Homo sapiens: one gene and its partners. The protein of the gene in region 3 interacts with the protein of the main gene of each other region in a pairwise test. Each region holds a gene or a part of one and is shown on either strand. Other genes may lie near its edges. The genes, in order: SCML2, LYPLA1 and SFMBT2.

The links.
Region 1: the proteins of SFMBT2 (region 3) and SCML2 interact in binary tests that used the Homo sapiens proteins (3 or more experiments, as listed by UniProt).
Region 2: the proteins of SFMBT2 (region 3) and LYPLA1 interact in binary tests that used the Homo sapiens proteins (3 or more experiments, as listed by UniProt).

Annotation. Positions count from the first base shown.
Region 1 is NC_000023.11:18,351,623-18,358,613, reverse strand, and holds the start of SCML2 (sex comb on midleg-like protein 2), read left to right. Parts: upstream 1-3,925; 5' UTR 3,926-4,022; intron 4,023-4,337; exon of another isoform or gene 4,338-4,364; intron 4,365-6,991. UniProt on the Homo sapiens protein: Putative Polycomb group (PcG) protein. PcG proteins act by forming multiprotein complexes, which are required to maintain the transcriptionally repressive state of homeotic genes throughout development.
Region 2 is NC_000008.11:54,098,873-54,105,811, reverse strand, and holds the start of LYPLA1 (acyl-protein thioesterase 1), read left to right. Parts: upstream 1-3,864; 5' UTR 3,865-3,988; coding exon 3,989-4,057; exon of another isoform or gene 4,058-4,462; intron 4,463-4,872; coding exon 4,873-4,904; intron 4,905-6,939. Other genes in the region: LYPLA1-TCEA1 readthrough, read left to right, coding at 3,989-4,057, 4,873-4,904. UniProt on the Homo sapiens protein: Acts as an acyl-protein thioesterase. Hydrolyzes fatty acids from S-acylated cysteine residues in proteins such as trimeric G alpha proteins or HRAS.
Region 3 is NC_000010.11:7,407,931-7,415,651, forward strand, and holds the start of SFMBT2 (scm-like with four MBT domains protein 2), read right to left. Parts: upstream 3,105-7,721; 5' UTR 2,931-3,104; intron 1,412-2,930; exon of another isoform or gene 1,372-1,411; intron 952-1,371; exon of another isoform or gene 932-951; intron 841-931; exon of another isoform or gene 803-840; intron 1-802.

The DNA of each region.
Region 1 (6,991 bases), on a different chromosome or scaffold from region 3:
CAACCATAACAATACTGAAAACAATTTATATCTTACAGATATGTGCTCTTGGTTTAATGGGGAAAAAAGGGCAAATTGTTAGAAACAGGGATCTGAAGATATTTGTAAAGTCACTATTTTAAACAATCAGTTATTTAATACCCATTCTATGGATTTTTACACTAAGGTAAAAATATGAATAGTGGGTTTACTAGTTACAACTTGGAGCTCCAGTCTCTGCCAGGCTTAGTTAGGCTTCTGTGTTTTAGGGAGAAAGATGCCCATTTAGTAGGAAAACTAGAGGGAGTCTTCACTCATCCTAAAACGTTAACTTTATGTATGCAAATTACATTGTTTCTTTTTTTTTTTTTTCCGAGACGAAGTTTCGTTCTTGTTGCCCAGGCTGGAGTGCAGTGGCACGATCGCGGCTCACTGCAGCCTCCACCTCCCGGGTTCAAGCGATTCTCCTGCCTCAGACTCTCAAGTAGCTAGGATTACAGGCGCCCGCCACGCCACCTGGCTAATTTTTGTATTTTTAGTAGAGACTGGGTTTCGCCATGTTGGCCAGGCTGGTCTCAAACTCCTGACCTCAGGTGATCCACCTGCCTCGGCCTCCCAAAGTGGAGGGATTACAGGTGTGAGCCACCGCGCCTGGCCGATATTGTTTCAACATAAGCATGTGTACTGATGAAGATCTAGATTAAACTTGCTTATCTAGGGAAGATTATCTTTTCACTCTCACTAATATTGAACTCTAAAAAAGGTACAAAAGGAAGCAATAAAACACACTTGAAATACAGGAGTATTTTGCCCTGGACTTGGACTGGGTGGGGTGATGTGTTTTTTTGAAGGTTGTCACAGGTTTGGTGCCAAATCAGGAGAACTATAAGAGCAAATTCACAGGAGCAAATCTGAGGCTTGAAAAATAAATCATGAAAACTTGGATTTTACCAGCTTTAGTTCTTATTCTTTCAGTTCACAGTTTCTTTATTTTCATGTTTTCTAGGCAAAGTTAATCGAACATAATAACAGTAGGTATTCATTTATCCATTTATCTATTCACTCATTCAACAAATATTTACCAAATTCCTACTATGGGCAAGAGACTTACATATAATGTAAGAGAAACGGTGATGTTCCAACCTGTGTTAACATTATGAAAAAACTGTCTCAAATTTATTTTGGCAAAGGTGGAAAAGCAGGGTATAATAAAATAATTATTGAAAAGTTTATATACGTAGTGGATAAAAGCACAATTGATGACAAGGGTGGAAGGAATTATTAGGACATATTTGAATATATTAATATATTCAAAAGCTAACTGCCACTTATTTGCTGTGTATTAATTTATTTTCCTCATCTGTAAAATGGGAATGAGAGTACCTACCTCATAGGAAAGTTGTGAAAGAACATTGCAAATATTGGAAATTTATCTCTAAAGAGACTAGCGTGATTCTCAGCACATGCTCAATAAATGGTAGCTATTGTTATTATCGATAACTCAGATTTAATATAACGAAGAGTCACACATCTATAAATCCTTTGGTGAGGATAGTAACTGAGAAGATGTTCTAGGATAGATAATTCAAATTTCATTTTTAGAATAAGGGCTTCAGTAATTTCATGTTAACAGAAATATGAAAAATAGATTAGGCATCAGTGAGCCAGGCAATTCAGCAATCATAGTAGAATTCCTACAATTTAATAGAATCCATAGACGTAAAAAAGGTATGTGACAAGCCAAAGTAAATCTTTCTTTTTTTTTTGAGATGGAGTCCCAAATAAATCTTTCATACATAGAATGTAGAGATGAATTTCAAATATTTCCATTGCATTGGGATTAGAAGGACAGTGGCCACTAATTAAGAATTTATGTCCTCCTCAGCCCTGCTGGTGCCCATAATAAGGTTTGTTTAGATTAAACCTCTGTTTAATTTCTTTCTGTTAAAGATCTCCTTCTGGCTTTTTTTTTTTTTTTTTTTTTTTGAGACAGAATTTCGCTCTTGTTGCCCAGGCTGGAGTGCAATGGCGCGATCTCGGCTCACGGCAACCTCTGCTTCCCAGGTTCAAGCGATTCTCCTGCCTCAGCCTCCCGAATAGCTGGGATTACAGGCGCGTGCCACCACGCCCGGCTAATATTTTGTACTTTTAGTAGAGACAGGGTTTCTCCATGTTGGTCAGGCTGGTCTCCAACTCCCGACCTCAGGTGATCCACTCGCCTCGGCCTCCCAAAGTGCTGGGATTACAGGCGTGAGCCACCGCGTCCGGCCTCTTTCTGGCTTTTGAAAACATGTTTGGGCCGGGCGTAGTGGCTCACGCGTGTAATCCCAGCACTTTGGGAGGCAGAGGCGGGTGGATCATGAGGTCGGGAGATCGAGACCATCCTGGCTAACACGATGAAACCCCGTCTCTACTAAAAATACAAAAAATTAGCCGGGCCTAGTGGCACGCGACTGTAGTCCCAGCTACTCAGGAGGCTGAGGCAGGAGAATCGCTTGAACCCGGGAGGCGGAGGTTGCAGTGAGCCGAGATCGTGCCACTGCTCTCCAGCCTGGGCGACAAAACGAGACTCTTGTCTCAAAAAACATGCTTGAACCTTCATCTTAGGACACTCCAACATTTTCTCCTATGTGATATACATTATAGAATTGATAGGACCAAATCTCACTTTAATATTTGCATATCATCAACCTAGTCTTTCTATTTTCGCCTTAAAGTTTACTTGAATTTGGCATTAACATTTAGGTTTTCATTTTTAAAGCATTAAATAATAGATCCATTTGATTCTGTGCCACTTGCCAATGTTTAGATATAATAAACACTTTGACTTTTGCTTAATACTGCAGAAGCTGCAACTGGAAAATTCTATCCTGCGTTGTAGACAATGGATATATTCCACAGGAGTTTTTTGTTCTCAGTTTTAAGCTCTGATTTCCAAATCATGATTTAAAAAGTATATCATGCCCTCTGCACTAAGTTAGGTGATCACAGATGCAAAACCTACATCCAGCTTTGGAAAGAGTTCCAGAGAGAGAAGCCCTAGCAATGGTTTGTTTTTGGCTAACATAGCACATTGTATTATTTTTCAAACAAAAGTTTGAAATCAGCTTATACCTAACCTGAGAACGAGGGACAGATGTTTTTCTCCGGCGTTCTGTTTGCTGTAATTTGTGCTGAGAGATTCACTGGTCGTTTTAAAGCTGTTTTTACGCCCCCTCCTTTGTGCGACCTCCACTTGCGCTATGGGCCTTGCCCGGTGGGAAAGGGAGCGTGCAGAAGGGACCCCAAAACGCACTCTCGGGGATGCTCCTGAGTCAGTAAGCAAGTGATTTCCCCCTGCGGGTTCATCTAGTTCCCGTTAGCTCAACCCCGGGTTTAGAGGAAGAACGAAATCCAGAGAGTGAAGCTGGGAGGTGAATGCGTGGCAAAAACTCATGGAAAAAAAAAAAAAAAGCAGTTTCAAGGACTATGCTGCAACCCGCCAAGCAGTGGCTTTCCTCAAGCTGCTGTAACCAGCTGCTTCTCCCTGCTCCTCGAACTTGCTTGAGTTCCGAGGGAAGCGCCTGCTTTTTGGGTGCGTGGCCAGGGTGGGTGGTGGCCAGGATTCGAAGGCGACAGTGAAGGGGAGCGAGTTCCCGGGATGGAACTTGACGTGGAACCCGGGGTCCCATCGAGGGGCTCCCCACGGCCTCGGGTGCTTGGGCTGCGACTGGTTTTTCATTTGGCGTAGGCGTGGGGGGTAGGAGGCAAAGTGCCAAGGGCTTTCCCGGGCTCACAGTGTCTCATGGTCCGCCACTGCCTGCGGTGGCGCTCGGCTTGACCCCGGCTCGGGCCCCGCACGCGGCGGCGGTCAAAGGGCGTGCTCGCGGCAACCGCAGGGCACGCGGGCCGGCCGCGCGGGGGGCGGGGCGGCAGTGGCGGTTGCGGGGCATGCGCGGCTCCGCGCGCGGCTTCTCAAACATGGCGGCGGCGGTGTGAAGCTCGGTGCCGGCTCGCGCGATCGGTGGGACAGAATTTCGTTGTTTTCACCGACGAGACTGGAGGTACGTGGTGATTCCGGGCCCCGTAAGGAATGGAGAGGCGGAGGTGTGTCCCGGACCCCGACCGTTGTCCGTGGGCGGGCGGGTAGAAGCCATCAGCGCGCGTCCCGTGCGAGGAACGCCCCCTTACGATCCCGCCTATGTCCCATCTCAGTTCGGCTTCGCGATAGGGTATCCCGCCCCCGGCGCCTTCCGCGGACGCCCTTCAGCCGATCTCGCGTTTCCCCTCACGCCGCCCCGGGGCCTTTTCGCCGCCGCGGGGTTTGGGCGCCCGGCCGATAGCTTCCACCCGTCCCCTCGCCTGCAGCGCCGACAGCGCCCTCCGGCGCATCCTCCCTGCCGTGGGTAGGGCCGGGCTGGGGCCTGGGGGGCATCACGGTGGGTGGCGGGGCGGAGGAAGGAGGTAGACTTTGCCTGGTCTGGGCTGAGATAACTTTTGGAGTTTGGGAGGGAAACGTCGGCCCGGAAGGATGCGCCTGTGGCGGCGTGCGGGCGCAAATCCTGGTGCCAAGGTGCGCGCCGCCGGGCTCCTGGCGGGGGCTGGGGGCGCCGGTGGCTCACCCTAGCGGTGCAGCGGGACCGGAATGCGCGTCCCGTCCGGGGCTGGCGGGGAGGCGAGGAGGGGCTCTAAGCCTCCTGAGGGGCGGAGAGGCGGCCTCGCGGCCTGACCGAAAAAAAGTTGCTGCCGTCACTTAGAAACAGTCTCGAAATGGTTTCTTACCTTTCTCGCTTTTTCCACCTGTATCGTGCTTGCGCCCCATCCAGGTGTGAAGAGCCGGAGGGAGAATGGGTCTAGGCGAATTTGCTCGATTTTGCGCCTCAAGGTTGTACATAGATAGCTTCCTGGGCCGACTTGTAATTCGGCTCCCCCAAACCCCAAATGTTTGGGCAGCACAAGTATTTACTTACAGGCTCCCATTTGAGACTATTTATTTTTTAAAAAGAGGTTGTTAAACATTTGTCAAGCATCACAAAGTGTGATTGCAACTTGAAATTTGCTTCTTGTTTGTAAATTAGGAGATTAACGTTTATGACTTACTTTAGGTCTTCTCTGGAAAGTTAATGGATCGATTAGTGGGGGTAAACTGAGGCAGGGAAAGTGAATAAGTTGCTTATGATCATATGATTTACAAAAGTATTGGAGATAGTTGTTTTTTTCCCTAAAACAGCTTCAGATGCTGCTACATTTTAATGCCCCCAGAGCTATTCATATTTCTGTTTTGAGGGAAAAGTATTTTAAGATGTACAACATTTATGGAGTACAGCTGCCTATGATGAGCAATTGTTTTATAACAATGGTTCATAAACGCATATTTAATTCTTTTCAATAACAGCGAGGGAAATGTTTTTCAATAATGACGATTTTGCCTTTCTTTTATTTTTCTTAATTACTCATTAAATAAAATATTTCCAATTACGAATGTGCTTTCAGGCTGTTTGTGTGTTTTTTTTTTTTTTTTCTATTTAATGGGAGGAATGTGAAAATAAGCTTTTGGAAATGAATCCAGTGGGATTTTTGAGAAAAGATTGAGTTTATGAGTATTCACCTGATGCCTTGTGTTTAGCTTTATCTATAACCTTTAAAACAGTTTGATAGAATGTAAAGAAAAAACACCATTTAAACTGGCTTTGAAAGTTTTGAATGAACTTTATATATACATCATGCAGCCATATGAACTTCTTAAGGATGTATACTTGTTTACCCCAGAGAACCTGATTTGCTTTGGAATTGGTAGTTGGAAAAAAGATTACTGTAACTCTACTGCATTATATGTGCGGGTGCTTTAAAGTTGATAGTGTCATAACGTTCAAAAATCATTACAGTCAGTCTAAAAAAGGTGTATCAGTTTTTCTCATGAGGTGGTTGATCAGTCCTTTTGATTTATGATTCCATCAACACATCTTTATTAAGCACCTGTGCTGTCTTTACTATGGAGTTCAGTTTATTCAGAGCCCACTACGTGTGCTAATTTCAGGGTGTTTAAGGCTTTCCACCCATAGTTTATTCCTGAAAATTTCAGGGAGTTATAGCTAAAAAAATCAATACGAATGTAGAACAAGTATTCCTTTCATTCAAAGGGCGAACTCGAGAAGTCAGTATTTTTGTCATAATTCTCCAAACAAAATTCTGAGTGTAGCTGCAAACTATTTCTGACTTACGTGATGTTAACTTTGTGATTTTTTGGTTAGGATTATATAAAGCTATATATTTTCATGAGATTATTTTCTGGTTCAAATAGATAACATACTGGTTAAGCTTGAGGGGAAAAATGAGTTGCTGGTATAAATGGAAATCAATATGTGCTCTGAAGATTGGGTATTTTTTAATACTAAGCAATTTCTATTACTAAGTAGTTTAAGCTGTAATTAAGTTTTAACTGGTATTTTAAAGCACTTTGTTTTTTCAAAATGTTGCAGAAATCTCTGAGCTCAGAAATAACAAATAAGGGTTATGATCCTCAGCTATAAGCCAGATGTGACTCTTATTTTCTTTTGGGCTTGTTCCTTTTTAGCTGCCTGCCTGTTCCTCCCAGATGCTTCCTATCACCCCTCTTCCTGCCCCTGTTCCCTTTGCTGTTGGTGTCTGTTTCCGCATCAGTGAAATGGTCAGGGTAATCCTTTGCTGCTTCACTGAGAAATAATTAATGATGGTAAAGTGCCTTGAAAAGGCTGAGTAAATACCAAGTCTTTTGAATTAACTTGATGTAGCCACTTGTTCCATTTAAGGAAGAGCCAAATCCCAATTTTAGTTTGAGCTCTTGGGGGTGCGAGAGAAAAGTTTCACTTGACTATTTTACTGCCTTTCTTTTGGGGTTAATAGCAATGACTTTTGTAACTCTAGTAACTGGAACACGGGTGGATACAGCAGTATCCTCTGCTGTTTGCCTTATTAGTCACCTCTAGTCTTTTTTTTTTTTTTGCCTGGTTATTCTGTCTGCCATTTTTCTCCCTCTATTCTCATTCCACTTGTG
Region 2 (6,939 bases), on a different chromosome or scaffold from region 3:
AATCCTTCAGAACGCTGATATTACAGGAAAGGGGTCCCAATCCAGACCCCAAGAGAGGGTTCTTGGATCTCACGCAAGAGAGAATTCAGGGCAAGTCCATACAGTAAAGTGAAAGCAAGTTTATTAAGAAAGTAAAGAAATAAAAGAATGGCTACTCCATAGCTGGTTGCCCATTTTTATGGTTATTTCTTGATGTTATGCTAAACAAGGGGTGGATTATTCATGCCTCCCCTCTTTAGACCATATAGGGTAACTTCCTGACATTGCCACAGCACTCGTAAACTGTCATGGCGTTGATGGTGTGTCCAGCATTGGTGGGTTCTTGGTCTCACCGACTTCAAGAATGAAGCTGCGGACCCTCGCGGTGAGTGTTACAGTTCTTAAAGATGGTATGTCTGGAGTTTATTCTTTCTGGTGGGTTCCTGGTCTCACTGGCTTCAGGAGTGAAGCTGCAGACCTTCGCAGTGAGTGTTATAGCTCTTAAAGGCACTGCGGACCCAAAGAGTGAGCAGCAGCAAGATTTATTGCAAAGAGCAAAAGAACAAAGCTTCCACAGTGTGTAACGGGACCCGAGTGGGTTGCCACTGCTGGCTCAGGCAGCCTGCTTTTATTCCCTTATCTGGCCCCATCCACATCCTGCTGATTGGTCCATTTTACAGAGAGCTGACTGGTCCATTTTGACAGGGTGCTGACTGGTGCATTTACAATCCCTGAGCTAGACACAAAAGTTCTCCAAGTCCCCACTAGATTAGCTAGACACAGAGCGCTGATTGGTGCATTTACAAACCTTGAGCTAGACACAGGGTGCTGATTGGTGTGTTTAACAAACCTTGAGCTAGACACAGAGTGCTGATTGGTGTTATTTACAATCCCTTAGCTAGACATAAATATTCTCCACGTCCCCACCAGATTAGCTAGATACAGAGTGCTGATTGGTGCATTTACAAACCTTGAGCTAGACACAGAGTGCTGATTGGTGTATTTACAATCCTTTAGCTAGACATAAAGGTTCTTCAAGTCCCCACCAGATTAGCTAGATACAGAGCGCTGATTGGTGCATTTACAAACCTTGAGCTAGACACAGGGTGCTGATTGGTGTGTGTACAATCCTCTAGCTAGACATAAAAGTTCTTCAAGTCCCCACTAGACTCAGGAGCCCAGCTGGCTTCACCTAGTGGATCCTGCACTGGGGCCGCAGGCAGAGCTACTTGCCAGTCCCACGCCGTGGGCCTGCACTCCTCAGCCCTTGGGCGGTCGATGGGACCAGGTGCCGCGGAGCAAAGGGAGGTGCTGGTCAGGGAGGCTTGGGCCACGCAGGAGCCCACGGCGGGGGCGGGGGAGGCTCAGGTATGGCGGGCTGCAGGTCCTGAGCCCTGCCCCGCGGGGAGGCGGCTGAGGCCCGGGGAGAATTCCAGCGCAGTGAGGGCGGGCCCACAGTGCCGGGGGACCTGGTGCCCCCTCCGCAGCTGCTGGCCCAGGTGCTAAGCCCGCCGAGCCCACGCCCACCCGGAACTTGCTCTGGCCCCGGTTCCCACGGACACCTCTCCCTCCACACCTTTCTGCAAGCAGAGGGAGCTGGCTCTGGCCTGCGCCAGCACAGAGTGGCTCCCACAGTGCAGCGGCGGGCCGAAGGGCTCCTCAAGTGTGGCCAGAGCAGACACCGAGGCCGAGGAGGTGCTGAGAATGAGCGAGGACTGCTAGCGCGTTGTTATCTCTCAATGAGAGTGCAGTAGTGAGGATGACCAGAGTTCACTCTCATTGCCATCTTAGTTTTGGTGGGTTTTGGCCGGCTTCTTTACTGCATCCTGTTTTATCAGCAAGATCTTTATAAGCTATATTTTGCGCTGACGTTCTATCTCATCCTGTGACTTAGAATGCCTTAACCGTCTGGGAATGCAGCCCAATAGGTTTCAGCCTTACTTTACTCAGCCCCTATTTAAGATGGAGTTGCTCTGGTTCACACGCCTCTGACACTGGTTACCGTGTGAAAGAAATGGAGTGTTGTTTTTTTTACAGCTTTCTTCCGAACCTTACTCTCTAAGGATGGTATCCAGTATGTCCTTTTTTTTTTCAGATGGAGTCCTGCTCTGTTGCCCAGGCTGGAGTGCAGTGGTACTATCTTGGCTCACTGCAAGCTCCGCCTCCTGGGTTCATGCCATTCTCCTGCCTTAGCCTCCCGAGTAGCTGGGACTACAGGCAACCACCACCACACCCAGCTAATTTTTTTTTTTTTTTGTATTGTTAGTAGAGACGGGTTTTCACCGTGTGAGCCAGGATGGTCTCAATCTCCTGACCTCGTGATCCGCCCACCTCGGCCTCCCAAAGTGCTGGGATTACAGGTTTGAGCCACTGCGCCCGGCCTCCAGTATGTCCTTCACTGAATTGTAAACTTCTGAAGGTCAGGGCATTTTGGCTTTAAGTGTTTCTATCTTGTGCTCTCTTCCAGATCTTACCATGTAGTTGATATGCAACACATTTGTTGAGTAACTACATTTTAGGCCATAAAGGCACCTGTGCAGAAAAGGGCAGTCTAGTCTCATGCTTATGTGTCCAGAGTTGGTTCCTTCCGGTGGGTTCATGGTCTCGCTGACTTCAAGAATAAAGCTTGTCACCTTCGTGGTGAGTGTTACAGTTTTTTTTTTTTTTTTTTTTTTTTTTTGAGACAAGGTCTCTCTCTGTCTCCCAGGCTGGAGTGCAGTGACGCGATCTCAGGTCACTACAAGCTCTGCCTCTCAGGTTCACGCCATTCCCCTGCCTCAGCCTCCCAAGTAGCTTGGACTACACGACCGGCCAATTTTTTTTTTTTGTATTTTTAGTAGAGACGAGGTCTCACCGTGTTAAGGCAGGATGGTCTCGATCACCTGACCTCCTGATCCACCCGCCTCGGCCTCCCAAAGTGCTGGGAGTGTTACAGCTCTTAAAGGTCCCACAGACCCAAAGAGTGAGCAGCAGCAGCAAGATTTATTGTGAAGAGTGAAAGAACAAACTTTCCACAGTGTGGAAGGGGACCCAGGGCTGCCACTGCCAGCTAGGGGATGGGGGGCGTGGCCAGCTTTTATTTCCTTATTTGTCCCGGCCCAAGTCCTGCGGATTGGTCCACTTTACAGAACACTGATTAGCCCGTTTTACAGGGTACTGATTGGTGCATTTTACAAACCTCTAGCTAGCCACAAAGTGCTGATTGGTGCATTTTACAATCCTAGCTACAGAGTGCTGTTGGTACATTTTACAATCCTCTTGTAAGACAGAAAAGTTCTCCAAGTCCCCAACCGACCCAGAAGACCAGCTGGCTTTACCTCTCACTTAAACCTGTACTGTGTCAATATCCGTACATCAGTAAGTGTTGTCGATCAAGTTAGGGAAGTAGTGGATTTCTGGTGACAAATGTTACCCTTTCCAACTAAAGTTTAAAGAAGGTAAGTTGAACCCAAATCTACATACTGCTGTAGCCCCAAACGGAAATACTGCAAAAGCTCCATCAACGTCTCCCAGTCCATCCAGACTTTTACAAATGGATAGACCCCGGCCGCAGGAAACCAAGGAGCACCTGGGGTTGGGTTGGGTGAATTGGCTCTGGGGCTCATTCTTTTCACTACAGCGCCAGAAAAGCAAAAACCTAAACCAAGACCCAAGAGACCAGCCCTCAGCCTGCACCTGAGAGCACATTTTCCCTAGCCAGCACTGAGCATGCGCAGGCTGCGTGGTGTGGCGAAAGCGCAGCCAGGTCCGCGCTGCCGCCGCAGCCAATCGGAGGGAGGGAGCCGCCCGGACATTGTGAGGTGCCGAGGGAGGGGCGGCGGGCGAGGGGCAGGGCAGGGCGGACCCTGGACGCGCGGGCGCGCGCGGAAGGTAGCGCGGGGCCGCGTTGGCGCGCACGCGCCTGAGCGTGCGCCCGGTGGGGCCGGCCGGGACTCGCCGCTCGCACGCCCTTGGGCCGCGGCCGGGCGCCCGCTCTTCCTTCCGCTTGCGCTGTGAGCTGAGGCGGTGTATGTGCGGCAATAACATGTCAACCCCGCTGCCCGCCATCGTGCCCGCCGCCCGGAAGGCCACCGCTGCGGTGAGTGGCGTAGGCGTGGGCTCGGAGGGGTCCACTGGGCCGGCCACCGGTGGTTGCCCCTCGCGCGGGGTGGGCGTTGCGGGCGCGTGGCGGCCTGCGGACGAGGACGCTCCTCCCGGCCCGGGTGGGGTGCGAATGGTCCGCGCGGCCGGGTCCGCGGGGGGCGGGGGCAGCCGGGGGGTCACAGCCGGCGCGAGGGCCAGTCCCCAGCTCCTCCCTGCATTGCGGAGGAAGTGTGGCCCCGGGACCCCCGCGGGCCGGCCTAGGGCACGGCGTCAGCCTCTGCAGCGTGTTTCTGCCTGGTGTGTGGGTGAGGGAAACCTAAGTCCGCCAGGAAATCGCCTTATTGTCACCTCGCACTCTTATCCTCAATGAAAGAAGTTTGAAGATTGAGTGTCCTACAAGGTCAGACGTACTGTTTTTTAGAAAACTCGTGTATGAAAAGTCAAACTTATTTTTGCCTCCGGAAGCTTGCTTTTGCAGTGGAAAAATTCTACAGGATATGTGAGATGTTCCTGATTTCACTTGAAAGAGATAAACTGTTTTTCTTAGAATGTGATCATTTGCACTCAATGTCTAACTGGGACCTCTCAGTGCTACCCCCCCCCCATTCATTATCTCAGGAAATAAAGGGAGAAGTTGATCAGAATTTTTGCCATTTAAAAGAGGTCGATAAAGATTAAGTCGCCGAAGATAGTGTTGTGTAATTCTCTCGTAGGTTTCGTTCCGTTTTCCACCTTAAGCAAAGCTAGTGTGTAACAATCCTGTGTGGGCTTATTTAGGCATTGCTTATTAATTTTCCTCTTCTCTTATAGGTGATTTTCCTGCATGGATTGGGAGATACTGGGTAGGTACCATTATTATTAATAGTAACAGTAATGAAACTGGGTCATGCAACTTTTGTTTACGCGTTCAAAGGTTTAATGTTTAAGGGCGCTAAAATGGTATTTTAAGATTGCCAGTTAATGTATCTTACAGTGCGGTGATTTTATGTTTTGAAAACCCTCAGAATTTTCCCCTTATCATCGTGAGTTTATTGATTTTTTAACTCTGGTTTCTGGAACATATTAAAATTTCAAATTCCTCATTAGTTGCTTTGGGTATTGGATACCAGAGATCCGTGGAATGTTAGTAGGGACGGTGTGCAATTGAGAGCTTTCCAGAGCAGTTAAAATTTCAGAGCAGATTGAAGAGAAGAACTAGTTGATTTTGATAAGAGAACTAGTGGCAACATAAGGCATGCAGCATTCTGAATAGAGGGATTAGATGTTCACTCTAATGAGTTGAAAGGCAGGGGAGGCAACTCAAAGATTTATTTGGAGGCTTATCAAACAATTTGTTGTACTAACTACTTATTTTTATTTTATTTTTTGTTTGTTTGCTTTTTTCTTTTGTTATTATTTTTAGAGACAAGGGCTCTCTCTGTCGCCCAGGCTGGAGTGCAGTTGCAGGATCTTAGCTCACTGCAGCTTTGAACTCCTGGGCTCAAGTGATCCTTCAGCCTCAGCCTCTCAAAGCACAGAGATTAGAGGTGGGAGCTGCCTGAGCCTGGCCTTTTGTACTAACTTTAGATACATGATTTATCTTTTACTCAAGCTTTTTCTATATTGAGATGTTTTTGTTTTTATATTTAAATTGGTGATAATCTGTGAAACTTAAGCAAAATATGAATGTTGTTGAAAAATTGCAGAAATAGAGGAAAACTGAAGATAAATAAATTTTGATAAAGTAGCCCCAGAACGACTAAATTTTCTTTAAAATGAACCATTGGGGCCGGGCGCGGTGGCTCACACCTGTAATCCCAGCACTTTGGGAGGCCGAGGTGGGTAGTTCACTTGATGTCAAGAGTTCGACACCAGCTTGGCCAATATGGTGAAACCCCATCTCTACTAAAAATATAAAAATTACCCGGGTGTGGTGGTGCATGCCTGTAATCCCAGCTGCTAGGGAGGCTGAGAGAAGAGAATCACTTGAACCTGGGAGGCAGAGGCTTCAGTGAGCCAAGATTGCACGACTGCACTCCAGCCTGGGCCACAGAGTGAGACTCAAAAAAAAAAAAAATGCCATTAGGCTAGATTTTTGTTTGTTTGTTTGGAGACAGGGTCTGCTGTGTTGCCCTGGCTGGAGGGCAGTGGCGTGATCTTGACTCACTGCAACCTCCACCTTCTGGGTTCCTGGGTCTCCCGAGTAGCTGGGACTACAGTTGCTTGCCACCATGCCAGCTAATTTTTGTATTTTTAGTAGAGACAGAGTTTTGCCATGTTGGTTACGCTGGTCTCGAACTCCTGACCTCAAATGATCCACCCACCTGAGCCTCCCAAAGTGCTGGGATTACAGGCGTGAGCCACCACTTAAAAGTGATTCCTATTTTTTGCCTAATAAGTCGAGTTATGTAATACAAACTTTGTATGGAGTTACAGAAAAGGTTGCAGCACTCTTTCTGGCAATCCAGTGGTCCTGTGAAAATGATGAACTTATTTTACCAAATGAAACTCGAATAGCAGAATCTCTATTTTATGGCCAAACCTTTCTTGATGTTGCAAGTCAGGGAGAAGGTTGCTATCCTCTAACTTTGCCAATAATGAGCACTTCTATGCCTGAATGATTAGTTCAAGCAAAAAAAAAAAAACTTCAGTCTAGGCAGATTCCACAGACTGAAGCTAAAAGTAAAAATGGTGAAGACTATTAGGATCAAAAATACCAAGAACATCCATTACATCTTGACCAAAAGTTAAGTTTATATTAAAAAAGTATCCTTCTTTTTAACCTGTTGTGATAAAAGAAAAAACAAAGGTCTCCAGTTCTGAAATTATTTGGTGGGATAATGCTAAGGAAAGGCTGACTCTAGATTGGTTCCATGAGTGCATGATGAAACTTCGAAC
Region 3 (7,721 bases):
AGAGCGGTGGTCGGCCGGGCTCCTGCCCAGTCTCGGCTCCTCCCTCCTCCCCACCAGAAGGAAAAACTTGGGCCCTTCGAGAACCCTGTGGAATGTTCTTTGTAATCAACTGTACATCCGCTTCCACGGCACGGCCTCGTGCAAAATCGCGGGTTTCGGGGCCTTGGAGCAAATTGCGCTTGTCAGCGGCGACGTCAGGAGGACAAGGGGAGGGGTTCGCGGCTGAAACTGCAGCTTCGCAGCACAGAGCCATTTTAGGCTGCTCCCCACCTCGCGGGGCCCATGGGAAAGCCGGCCCCGGGAGGGCGCGCCCAAACGCAGGCTGGAGGAGCCACGGACGCGTCCTGGCCGGCGTGTCGCCATCGTTCAGCCTCGCTGCCCAGGTGGGAGGGGTCACCTGCCGCGGGGTCTCCAAGCCAGTGCCGCTTGCTCCCGGCCCCCACCCACTGACAGCACGGCGTCCGAGTGACCCTGTCTAGCCTCGTTCTGCGCTCCTGCAAACCACGTTGCTGCGCTAACTACAAACCTGGCCAACATGTCTTTGTAACCCTATCATTTAAAAACGCTTCCAGGCACCTGGCCGCTGCCAGATCAGGTTCGCGGGCCCGGAGGAGGTCCTCCCACCTGCCCCCGCCAGCCCCGGGGACCGTGCGCGGCCTCCGTGTGGCCCCCGCCCACGAGGTCCCTCGGGCAGGAACCGCCGCGCGACCTCTGTTCAGCGGCCGCGTCCTGGCCACGGGCGACCCCTGTCGGGAACCCTGTTCCCGGCTAAGCTGCGTTCCCGCATTCCGGTGGCTCTCACCCGAGCTCGCGTTTGCTGGCTTTCCCTCTGGCTCCTCTGCCTGACCCCGATTTTGTCTCCGAACTCCACTCCCAGATCCTCCCCGCCCTGGAACGCCGACCTTTCCCCCGCACTTCGCCGCCCACTCACATCCCCCGGCGACTGCCCGGCCTCCATGCCCGCCAAGACAAGAAGATGCCCCTCTCCGATGCGCCGAGAGGGTTCCTAAGCCGAGCAAGGGACAATTTCTTCCCCAAACGCTGTCCCCATCCCCCACCTTCCCTAGAGCGCGAAACCCAAAAGTAAGGAAGGCAACCCCTCGCCTCGACCCTACGTGCTTGTCTCCCAGAGCCGCGCGCTCCCGCCCTTCTGCCCCACCCCACCACCACCACCACCACTTTGGTCTTCTCCAAGCTTCGGTCCCGGTCCCCCACCTCCCACCCCAGAGCGGCGTGGAGGAAAGCAGGAGCCCACTATTAAGTGCAGCGCGCCCCCTGCACACACGAAATCCGGCTGGCGTCTGCAGCCCGATTGCACCCAATACCCGGGACAGTTAGTCCTTTTAATAAGCACCTCCTCGCCCCACCTACTCGGGGATCTACCCGCGCAGGATCCAGCACACACAAGGCGAGAGCTAGCTCGTCTCCTAGAAAGACAAAATAAATCACTCCCTCTGCCCTCATGTACTTTACACCACGTGTCCGCAGTTTGTCACGTCAAATCATGGCAGGGTCTGGTTCCAAGACGCACACACACATTCGGGGTGGTTCTCTTTGACACACACACCCAAAAAAACTGCGCACACGCAGGCCTGCACACTAATCCACAGGCACACACGACAGTTGCGTTTCGGTGCCCTGGTCCGGGCCAGGGGCACTTCTCCATCCCTTTCCCCCCTAGCAATGGACTTGACACACAGACTCTAACCACGGAAAAAAAAAACCGGACAGCCCATTCCTTCTTTTTTTCCCCACTTAATTCGCTAAAGCGCTTCCTGGGGTAGCCAAAGAGAGTCGAAACTAAGGGGTGGAAACTTCAGCTGGGTTTTTTCCCACCTCAAAACCTTTATTTTCAGTTTTTAAAAGCCACCTTAGCCCGCCATATTGAAACTGGCACGGTTTCTAAAGACTCCTTCCCCGCAGTTGTGGCGCTTCCAAGAAAACACGAGTACGGATCAGGCTCTGGATGAGTGTCCGGCCACCGAGAATCAGCCACTTCCCACCCTCCAGGATCCCCCAGCTCCCTCCAGCCCCTTCCCACCGCCCCTGGTCAAAATCAATAAATACATCTCGCAGTTCCTACAGTTGCATTTTGGCGGATTTCTGCAAAACATACACACACATACACATACCCACGCACGCATATTAAAAAATAAACTCCAGAACCAGCTCAAGTCAGCAATTTTGAAAGGGGGTCGAATAAGAGGAGACAACCGGAAAGCCCCTAAGTGACAGGATATTACTTTAAAGAGAAAATAATGAACAAAAAGACCATCCTCGCTGGAGCACGCTCCAAAACTACTACTGCCAATTTTATTTCAGTTGCTCAGGCAAATGTTTCCAAGGGAGCGATTCCGAATGTCTGCACGATTTTTACCCCCATGCCGGTCTCCGATTCCCCGTCCTCACCATCTTTTTCTCCCACCCAAACCAAAAGAAAGGGGAGACCCCAGCGCGGAGGAGACGCGGGAGCGCGGGGTAGGTAGCAGCGGCGGCTGCGTCGCTAAAATGAGTGCAGAAACGAGGAAGGTGGGCGGCGGGAGGGGACAGGCTGCGCCCGGGGAAGGAGGACACTTTGCAACTCCGGACGGACTCCCGCACGGCTCGGCTTTTCCGAGCCCGGAGACGCAGGCGAAGGGGACCCGGGAAGCAAAAATGACAACCTGGAGCGCACAGAGGAGTTTGAAGCTTCGCTCAAGTGCAGTCGCTTTCTTCTCCTGCCCTTCTCTTTCGCTCCCCTGCACCCTCCCCAGCCTTCCCCCACCCGCCACCTCCAACCCCAGCTCCCTCAGGCTTCCTTCCTTTTTTTTTTTTTCCTTTTTTTTCCTAGGCTGGAAAAAGCCCCTGACCAGCGCACTCAACCTGCGGGCCGAAGGGCTGCTCTCCGGCCAGCCTGGGCGCCGGGGACAGCAGCCGGCGCGGCGTCCTACCTGGTGAAGTTCGTCCTGCCCTCGGCGTGGACCCAGGCCCCGGTCGCCGCCCGGGAGGGCACCGGCCTCGCTCGCTTGCTCGCTCGCCCGCCCTTGCCCGCTCGCTCCCCGCCCGCCGCCTCCCTCGCGCGCCCGCTCCGGTCCTCCGGCTCCCACTACAGCTCATTCCAATATGGCATCCTCTCTGTGCGCATGCTCGGCGCTCTTTTTTTTTTTTTTTTTTTTTTTTTTTTAAGATTTTGTGTGTGTGTGTATGTGTGTGCGTGCGCGTGCAGCGAACTCCTTCAACGACCTTTTCCAGCGCTTGCAAAATTTCTTAAGCCAATTAGCCTGCGGGACGTGATCGGCTCCTTCCCCAGCCAGCTCCGCGCCATTCCCTGCGCCTAAGCAGGCGGGCACCCCCAGGACCCTGGGACCTTCCACGCCCACGCGGCCTCCTCCCCACCGCGCTCCCCTTCCTCCTTTTTGTGAGCTCCCTCCATACATGATCTGCAGAAAGTTCCCATCGCGGGCGTTTCCGCACACCCCTCCGCAAGGACAACTGGGCAAACTCCCGTTTCCCTGGCTGCGGTTCGTGAGCTGGGTTTCCAATGGCTCAGTCGACCGTGTGCACAAACTTGCGCTTTATCCGCCGGGGATCGCTGGGAGCGGAGATAAATTCAATCCCCAGGGCAATCTTGGCCCCGCCCGCCCCACCCCATCCTGTGCTTAAATAGAGCCTTTCTTGAAGCTGCGAACATTTCCAGGCCCCTTGGGCAGGGCTGGAGGGGCCGAGGAGAGCTATTCGAGGGAAAGGTGCCCCGAGGGGCAGGAAATTAAGTTGGGGCTGCCCGGGCGAGCTGCCAGGTAGCCGTGCTCGCCACGGCGTCTCATGGGGCACCTAGCTAGTGGCGGGCCTCATAGGGCGGGAAAAGAATCGTCGCTCACACCCCAGCAAAACGTGGCCCTCGACGGTCCGTTGGAGAGCCCCGGCGGCCGTGAGCCCCGGGCAGGGCTGGACGTCTGCGGAGCCCTCGGGCACTTTGTCCCGGGCGCCTGGGGAGGAACGCGGAGCTCCCAGGGCCTTAGGTGCAACGGCTGCGCAGAGCCCAAACGAAATGTCCCCAGTGCGGAAAAGCCGGTGACGCCCTGGTAGCAAGACCAAGAGCTTCCGAAGAACGCTGCGCCCTTAACTAGGGGGCCTCGCAGAGATGCCTGTGTGGGCCTGCATTGTATATTTCTGCGAAATAGCGAATGGACACGTTTGCTCAGGGTTTTTATGGTTGCCAAAGGGGGTAAAATTACCCAGTCCCCCAAATCTGTGTCCCATGAATCCCTCTCATAGTACCCCTCTCCAGGGGGCCAAGAGGTCCTCCAGGTCCCCGTGGGTTCGCAGCTCCACCCGCCCTTCCTCGCCCTGCATCCCTAAGGAGAGGTGTCCGCTCTGAAGGGCTAGGGGCCAGCCATGGAGTGAGGGGACCGGGGCTGACCACGCGCGGCACAGACAGAGGTCCTCAGGCGGGCCCTCTCCTGGACGGTGGGGCCGGAGCTGATCTAGAAGAAATACGGAGGGACGTGCCGAGAAGCCGCTCTCCTTCGCCGCGACCCTGGAGAGCGCCTCTCCACCCAAAGGATCTGCCGAGCTGAGAGATCCAGGGCGGGCGTCCGCAGCCGTGAGGCCCCCTGCGCCGCCAGTATGGGAAGATCCTGCCTCCTTACACCTTGGAGAACGCTGGGCGACGACTAAAGCGCCTTCCGCCGGCCTGTCACTCCATGTGACACAGGAGCCACGTGAGACCCAGAAGAGTCCAGCGACTCGCCGCGCGGCGCACTTTAAACTCTAGCCTGAGTCTGCGACCCCTCCAGCTCTCCAGTCCCCAGCTGTTGGGGACATCAAGCCGGAGCCCTGGGCTCTCTGCCCTGTGGGTCGCTGAAAGCAGAGACTCCTCAAACCAACCGAACCGGGCGCATTAACCCTCTCGCCTGCACCCCGCTGCCTCCCGGTTGAGCCCCGAGGCGGCTCCAGGTAGAACCTGCTGGACTGACTGCGGCGTCCAGAAATCTGGAGTGTGGGCTCCAGACACTCTCCACGGTTTGGCCCCGGGTCTCAACACCCAAGTCGCCTCTTCTGGCTCCTTCACCACACAGCGGGGCCTGTGGAAAGGGAGGGGCCGAGAGACCCGTCGGCGCACCACTGTCCTCGAGGGGTCCCCACCCTGTGCACTGCTGAAGCGCAGGGCGCGCCGCGGCAGGAATGGCCCCGAGTGCGGATCCCCTGCCCTGAGCCTCCCACTCTTGGCCCGCGCTGCGCCTACCCAGTGGCCCTGGCCCCGCAGGGCGACAGCGGCTGCTCCCTCCCATTTGCGTCCCAGACCGCGCGGCCTCGCTTAGCTCCCGGGAGCCGACAGGCGCTTGCCCTGGTGCCAGCGCAGGGCTTCCCGGGGGCTTGGGGTAGGGGTAGGGGTGCGGGGGGGAAGGGGAGAACGTAATTTCCTTCTGCAGGAGTCGTGGAGACGTGAGCTGCAACCAGCCACCGCGCTCTCTCCAGGCTTGTTTACCAGTTTTAGGTCATCATTGTGCACGAAACATTCTTTCATCCAAATAAAAGCAAATGCAGAAGAACACCTGATCCCAAACAGTGTATGACTGCGTTCATTATCTTACCTGGTTACTCCGAAGGAGTTGAATTTTTTTAATGTTTTGGGTACGTAGACCCCGTATAATTTTGCTCCTGGGTCCACAAAATGGTGATTTTGGGGGAGGGTTACCTATCGTGATTAAGAAATATAATCAGGAAGTCGCAGCACACAAAGGTGGCATTGTTATTGTAAAAAAAAACTCCTTCCCTCCTATTTTTGTGTTGCTTTTTGCACGTGACTTTTTGAAGATTCCTTGATTTTCTTTTCTGCAACCGACCTCCATTCTCTTTTATCCAAGGGCACCAATGAGGCAAATGAAAATTGGTTAGGAGATTCCCTGAGGCAATTCAAGTGGCCCCTTCATCCCACTTCAATACCTTTCCACTTTCATTTTTATTTCAGAACCAGACACTTTAGGGATATATACCCAGATGTAGGTTGCACCCTAAATCAATTAAAGGTAGGAAAAAATTCCACATAGTCAGCAAAGGATAACGCACTGACAAAAATTGTGACTGCTTTTTTAAAGTAAAGAAGGCTTATGCACTCCAGCTCAAACAGGGTCATGAAAATCTCATTATCAACACAAGATTTTTCTCTATACTGTTAATATTTACTAAAAATCTTGGCCAAAATAAGCCTTTGATCACACTAACTATAGATATTATTTCACTCCTAAACTTTGCTTAAGCCATGAATTTCATCACTCTACAGATCAAGTTATCCCTTCACAGGGACTTTGGAATTCTTTAACATAAATGGGGCTAATTGGTTAATTGTAAAATATTTAGATGCTATTCCATTTGTCTAATGATACAGCACAAATTAGAAATATAAAATAACAATTGAAAAGTTTTTGTCTCATTTTCCTTATATTCCTAAGCATTACATCACAAAAACTATTGCAGAGGAGTTGAAAAATTATATGTGTACTATTTATTCTCTTTATATTTAGGACATGTGATTACTTAAATCTTGTTGCATTAGTCGTACCCAAGAAAAATGTTCAATTTGTACATACCTAGTCCATGTTTAAGTTATCACTTCCCACTGGGAAAAGGAAATGAACCAAAGAAAATAGAAGATAAACCATTATGCTTTCTTAATATAGAGACTCCCTAATGAACCATTAGACATACTAGCCTAACAGGAAAGCAGAAGGAGGAGAAAAAGAGGCCAGAACCAAATATTTGAAGAATTTGTACAACCTTCTCTTTACTGGAGCCTTGAAACCAAAACTTGTTTTTTCTTAGGCTACATAAGATAGTATTTTTCCATCAGGATCCTAAGGTCACAAAGAGTAAATCTAAATACACTCTGTCTTTTATTTTTTCACCTTTTTTCCTTATCTTCTATCCCCAATTAAAGCACTTAATGGTTAATGTATTGGGAGTCCAGTGACCTCAGTCACTGCTTCATCGCTAATTATCTGTGTGACCTCTGTAAGTCCAGTGACCTCTCTGAGCCGTTCTTTCCTCTTGGGTAAAATGAGGGGATTGGACTAGGTGTTCTGTGAGGTCCTTTCAGACCTAAACAGTGCTAAGCAATCTACCCCACCTCAAAGCCATAAATTGCTTTATATGGTATTCTGCCAATTTGATATAGCAATCAAATTCTGAGGTCACAGAAGATAAAAAAGAATTAAGTAAAGGAATTTGTAGGGAAAGGGTATTAGGGCCTTCTTTGCCTCACTGCCCTTCAGTGAAGGTACCATTCAGGTCATATTTTTGCCTTCTTTTGATTATTATTGTGTTTTTGCATTTACTGTATGAGTTTTGTGTTGCCCATAAAAGTGTGGGGGCTCTGGTGAGTGTATCTATGACAGTCCTTCTGAGAAAAGCCTGGGGTTATTGAGATGGCTTGTGAAAATAACTAGAGTTCTCAGTGAGTGTAGTGATGTGTATTGGTTCAAAAAATATCACCACCTAAGAGAGCACCTTCTCATACATTTATAGAAATTTCAGAAACACACTATTGCGATTGACTCTTGTATAATTTGAAGGAATTTCAAGCTTCCTTGACAACAAGAGAAAAAAATAATAGGGTACAGGGCATATTTTTAAAAGTACATGAAGGCCGGGCGTGATGGCTCATACCTGTAATCTTAGCACTTTGGGAGGCCAAGGCAGGTGGATTGCCTGAGTTCAGGAGTTCGAGACCAGCCCAGGGAACA